Linked DNA regions of Homo sapiens: region 1 is linked to region 2. Evidence: fine-mapped expression QTL. A gene starts in region 2. The other region holds a variant in brackets. All regions are shown on one strand. Distances are between the middles of the regions.

Region 1 (2,929 bases), 280 kb after region 2:
TTTGAACCCTGACACCAGCACTACCCCTGATCTTTTCAGTTATATAAGCGCGAACAATTCCCTTCATGCCTAAGTCAGTTTAGGTTGGCGTTTCTGTTACTTGCAACCAAAAATCCTAGCTGACTGAGAAAATATGACAGATATAAAAAGAAAATAAGAGTAAATGGTCAGACAGCCAGAACCCAGGCCAGCAGTCCTGGGCATGAGCTTTCAGCAACCAGAGCATGGCCCCTTGATATTGCAGCAATGTTGCCCTTGAACAGAACCTAATCCCTGGCTGAGGTCAGCCAGCAACTGAAAAAGTTGGCCCACTCTGCTGACCTTGCAAGAATTGCTGCAGTCCCCACACCCTTCACACCTGACAGTCTTGCAGATTACTCTTCCTTCCTTTTCCACCACCCCTCAGGCTCTTAGCACCAATTCTTTTCCTCCCATCAACACTGCTTTGAGGAAAAAAGCTAGTTAATTCATTCACTCTAAGGTTTATATGACTCATATGTTCCTATTTGTTAAAATATCTACATTTCCAAAGGGCGCAAACTATCCTTTAAATTGCCTTCGTTCATTGCACCGTCTTTGAAGTCTAATTCATTGCAAACAAATGAATTTGTCGATGCCTGTATAGCTCTATATGACACAATGATACAGTACTTTATTAATCATTACAGAATACAGGAAGCCTCAGAGTTTACTTTCCTCCTATGCAGAAAAGTGCCCTAAAAAACATCAAGGAAACATCATCACCATCATCAATATTTATTAAACATTTATTATGTGTTTAGTATCGTAGGCATTGTTCTAAGCACTTTACATACATTATCTGATCGAATCCTCACTGCTACTCTATGAAGTAGCCACATCATGAATCTCATGTTGCAGCTGAAGAAATTAAGGTGTAGAGAAGTTAAGCAACTTGTTCAAGGTGACACAGATGCTAAGTTGAAGAAAACGATGGAGCAAAAGAAACTATTAGAGGAACCAAGGTGGAGCTGGCCTCTAGGGCTCTTCATAGGTCTTCTGGAGTTACAGCCAGGTATCTAATGAAATCATTGGCTGAAAATTTATTATATTTAAGTTACATAATTTAAGAGCCAAATGGAATGTCCAGTGTTCAATTAAGATGAGAGAAAAAAGAGAACCAGTCAGAGTATCAGAAATAAAACTAGATCACATATCTGCTACTTTCCAGTCTGAGCTCTTTGCATTCATTTATTCATTCATTCTATCATTCATTTGTCATAAGCATTCATGAACATAGAGAATGTTCTTTTACTACATATGGAAAATGTTGGGGCTGGCTACATTAAAAAAAAGTACAGGCATGCCTCATTTTATTGTGCTTTGCTTTGTTGTGCTTCACTGATATTT[T/C]GTTGTTTACAAATTGAAGGCTTGTGGCAACCTTGCCTTGAGAAAGCCTATTGGTGCCATTTTTCCAACAACATGTGCTCACACACAAATGATAAGAAAGTGAAACAGTCTTATTGCTGTTTAGTGGTCTGGATAGAAGATCAAACCAGCCACAATATTCCCTTTAAGCCAAAACCTAATCCAGAGCAAAATCCTAACTCTATTTAATTCTATAAAAGCTGAGAGAGGTGAGGAAGTTGCAGAAGAAAAGCTGAAAGCTAGCAGAGGCTGGTTCATGAGGTTTAAGGAAAGAAGCCATTTCTAGAACATAAAAGTGCAATGTGAAGCAGGAAGTGCTAATGTGGAAGCTACAGCAAGTTATCCAGAAGATCTAACTACAATCATTGATGAAGGTAACTAAACTGAATAACAGACTTTTAGTGAAAATGAAACAGCCTTCTGTTGGAAAAAAAAAATGCCATGTAGGGCTTTCATAGCTAGAGAGGAGAAGTCAAGGCCTGGCTTCAAAGTTTCAAAGGGCAGGCCAGGGGTGGTAGCACATTCCTGTAATCCTAACATTTTGCGAGGCTGAGGCAGGTGGACCACTTGAGGTCAGGAGCTTGAGACAAGCCTGGCCAACATGGTGAAACCCCATCTCTACTAAAAATACAAAAAATTAGCCGGGCATGGTGGCATGCACCTGTAATCCCAGCTACTCAGGGAGGCTGAGGCAGGAGAATCACTTGAACCTGGGAGGCAGAGATTGCAGTGAGATGAGATCACGACACTGCACTCCAGCCTGAGCAAGAGTGAGACTCCATCTAAAAAAAAAAAAAAAAAAAAAAAGCTTCTCTTCAAAGGGCAGGCCGTCTCTTTTATAAAGGGCTAACGTAGCTGGTGACTTTAAGTTGAAGCTTGTGCTCATTTACCATTTTGAAAATCCTAAGGCCCTTAAGAATTATGCAAAATCCAGTCTTCCTGTGCTCTATAAATGGAACAACAAAGCCAGGATGAGAGCACATCTGTTTACTGCATGGTTTACTGAATATTTTAAGCCCACTGTTCAGACCTACTGCTCAGAAAAAAAGCTTTCAAAATACTACTGCTCATTTGTAATGGACCTAGTCATCCAAGAGCTCTGATAGAGATGTAGAGGAGATGAATGTTCTCATGCCTGCTAACACAGTATCCATTCTGCCACCCATAGATCAAGGAGTAATTTTGACTTTCAAGTCATACTATTTAAGAAAAATATTTCATAAGGCGATAGCTGCCACAGTGATTCCTCTGATGGATGTGGGCAAAGAAAATTGAAACCCTTCTGGAAAGGAATTGCCATTCTAGATTCCATTAAAAACATTCATGATTCATGGGAGGGGGTCAAAATATTAATATAGAAGTTTGGAAGAAGTTGATTCCCAACCTCATGGATGACTTTGAGAGGTTCAAGACTTTCATGGAGGAAATAACTGCAGATGTGATGAAAACAGCAAGAAAGCTAGAATTAGAAGTAGAGCCTGAAGATGCAGCTGAATTGCTGCAATCTCCTGATAAAACTTTAAGGATGGGATGAGTAGTTGCT
Region 2 (2,875 bases):
AGCTCCAGTCAAAGAAATTATCATGTTCTCCCCAGTCATACTCAATAACATCTATGTGAAACACCCCACGGGGAAGTCAAGAAGCAACAAATTATCATGTTCTCCCCAGTCATACTCAATAACATCTATGTGAAACACCCCACGGGGAAGTCAAGAAGCACAAAAGGGACCCGGAACAATTAATGGGTGTTTTTGAGACTGTCAGAGTAAACAGCATCTCCTGCAATAAATCAGGGAAGTCTTGAGAGTCGCACCTTAGAGATACGGTTCCTGCCAAATCATCAATTTAATCAGCAAAATGTTTACATCTGGAGGACTCTGCAATGTGCCCTGGTAATAACCAGGCTCTAGCGGCTCCTCCTCACATCCACTTGTCCTTAAGTTTATTTACCTACCAGATCTCACTGCAGCTGAAGCTAACAAGCCTCTCTATGCACATCAGTATTCTTAGCCCCTCAATCAAAGCATCAGTGAGGACTATTGGGGCCCGCTGGGGGTCTGAAGAAGAGTCCCTCTGGCAGGGAGAAATGGCGAACTTCTCTAAACAAGCTCTGTGTCTCACAGGTCTTTGCCAAGGATCAACAGTGACTAGCAAGTCTGTGAGACAGAAAGTAAGAAAATACTCTTCATGAGGGAAATAACTGTTTGGGTATGTGTCAGTCACTACTCCATCTCCAATGTCCAGAACACTGCCTCCTACGTAGCAAGTACATATAAAGCAACTAGAATAGTAACGGGCATGTCATAAGCCAGTTATAATTATTATAACTAAATGTATAGCTATGTTTTTAAGGCAAGCTGAACTTTACTAGTTGTTACCCATAATTTGGCAATGGAACAGCCTAAGTAAATACACTTAAAATGCAGGAACCTTATAAAGTAAGCTTTTCAGCCCCTTGTCTTCTTTCTTTCTGGTTCTGAGTTATACACTTTGAAGAGGACTTTGTAGCCATCTTCTGAAAACTTCCAAATCTAATGGCACTAATAGTCAATGGGAAAGACAGTGGAGCACTGCAGGACATCACCAATTATATTACAGAGCCTGAAAGGAACTAAAAATATGAAGACTTTCAAAATAGTAACACAGCACAAACACCAAAATGTTAACACACGAGGAGTTTATCTGAAGTCCTACTTGTGATCTATTTATCAGTAATGTTCAAATATGGGAAAATTAATGTGGGAAAAATGACAATGCAACACCTCTTATCTAGAATATGTCGACATTGGTGTCAAAATACTTCTTTATTCTGTTAATTCCGCATTTCCAGGTAGCTCCAACTACCCATCTCTGCACGTTATACTGTGAAGCTGCTGACAATTTTCTGAGGGTGCTTCAGAAAGAACCATATCTTACACATCAGTTCTCCACCTCATACCACATGTTGAATTTGACAATGGCAAAGGTTAGAAAAGAAAACAGGTTTTTGCCTGGCTGTGCATCAGATGATGTAGGGATGTGGGGAAAAGTAGGAGGAGAAATAAGAAAGCAGGACTGTTTTTGCATTACTGGAGGAAAGGAACTAGCTCAGAAGTCAGCCTAACACCCACAGAGATTAAAACGTCTCTTCCTTCCTCTTTGTTTCCACGTCCCAGTCTTCAATAAATTCTATCTGACAACAGCAGCAGAGGGACCCACTATCTTGTGGTTTCTGTCAAGTTCCTGATTTTCATCCGTAGTTGAAGATGAGCAAGAACTCTGTAACAGTGTTACCTTGGAGCCTACAATGAGAGGTATTTCAAAATGAGTGAAGCATGACTCTCACAGATGAAGGCCTAGACGCAGGTAAGAAAACAGCTTTTCCATGAAATGACTTGCATGTATGTGAATGGTGCATGGGAACAGAAAAGATTTCTGAGCTGGGCAGCAACAAAGCTGAGGAACACTGAACCATTGCCACTCACATTTTTCTCAGTAGGTTACTTTTTGTTTGACAACTATAATTGGTATATTAATATATTTCCCCATGCTAATATGGGGATCCAATACTGAAATATTATCATTTATGATTTAGGATTTCCAATCGTGGCTGTCAAAATATATCTGTGATGAAGAGATATCAAGGAAAATGTTTAAAAGGTATTCATCCAGGACAAACATTTCAAAAGCTCGTAAATGTGTATTAAAATTGCTTCTCAAAACTACAAAATCGATTAGCATAATACTTAGGTCAGTATGTCTTTGTTTGCAATTGCATATGTGTACAGATATATAGTTGCATTTACTTGTACATACACTTATATAGGTAAAAGTTTTTATCTTTGTCATTATTAGGATAAGTTAACCCCATTAACACCTACTAAAATAAAATGCCTTTAAATTGTAAATCACAGAAATATCTGTCCTAGGCATAGCAAATATTTGAGTTCATATGCTACTTATTTATAGTCTATGACTAATCAGCTAAATTACTTACAATTCTTTAAACATTATAAATTAAATTACATTCAGGAGAATTAGCACAGACCCACAATGTCAGCTTATTCAACCAAGCCCATGCAATCCATCTTGTCTACATATACTTTGTTAACCAAGGACAATCAATCCTACGGAGAAAATGAATCAAAGATCACACTAGTAAAAAAATAAATAGTTTGTATATTCATCTTTCTAAAACATACAAACTTGATAATCAGTTTTAGCACTAAAAAAAAACCTAGCCATTAAGTTAAAAAGAAAACAATGCACTCGGAAAATACCAAAATGGCATATTTTATGATTTGTAAACATGCAATGAATTTTATATTTCGGTAAAATTTATGAATACTATATATACAAACATGCATACAATTGTGTGCACACAATTAACACATTGGTATATATGAATGAACTCTATATTGTCATGTCTGGAAAAAAAAAAAACAAGGAGGCCAG

Evidence for each region. PIP is the estimated chance that this variant, and not a neighbour inherited with it, causes the effect.
Region 1: its variant is fine-mapped to the expression of P2RY14 in whole blood (TOPMed, PIP 0.98).

What each region holds. Positions count from the first base shown.
Region 1 is chr3:150,993,099-150,996,027 of GRCh38, reverse strand. All of the region lies in intron 1 of CLRN1-AS1 (CLRN1 antisense RNA 1), which reads right to left. Among named protein-coding and RNA genes, the nearest start is that of CLRN1, 22 kb to the right of the region's middle. The variant T/C (reference allele first, on the strand shown) is at 1,369.
Region 2 is chr3:151,277,198-151,280,072 of GRCh38, reverse strand. It overlaps P2RY14 (purinergic receptor P2Y14), which reads left to right and starts at 1,531. Exons shown (of 3, transcript NM_014879.4): 1 at 1,531-1,786. The region is part of intron 16 of MED12L (mediator complex subunit 12L); the gene reads right to left.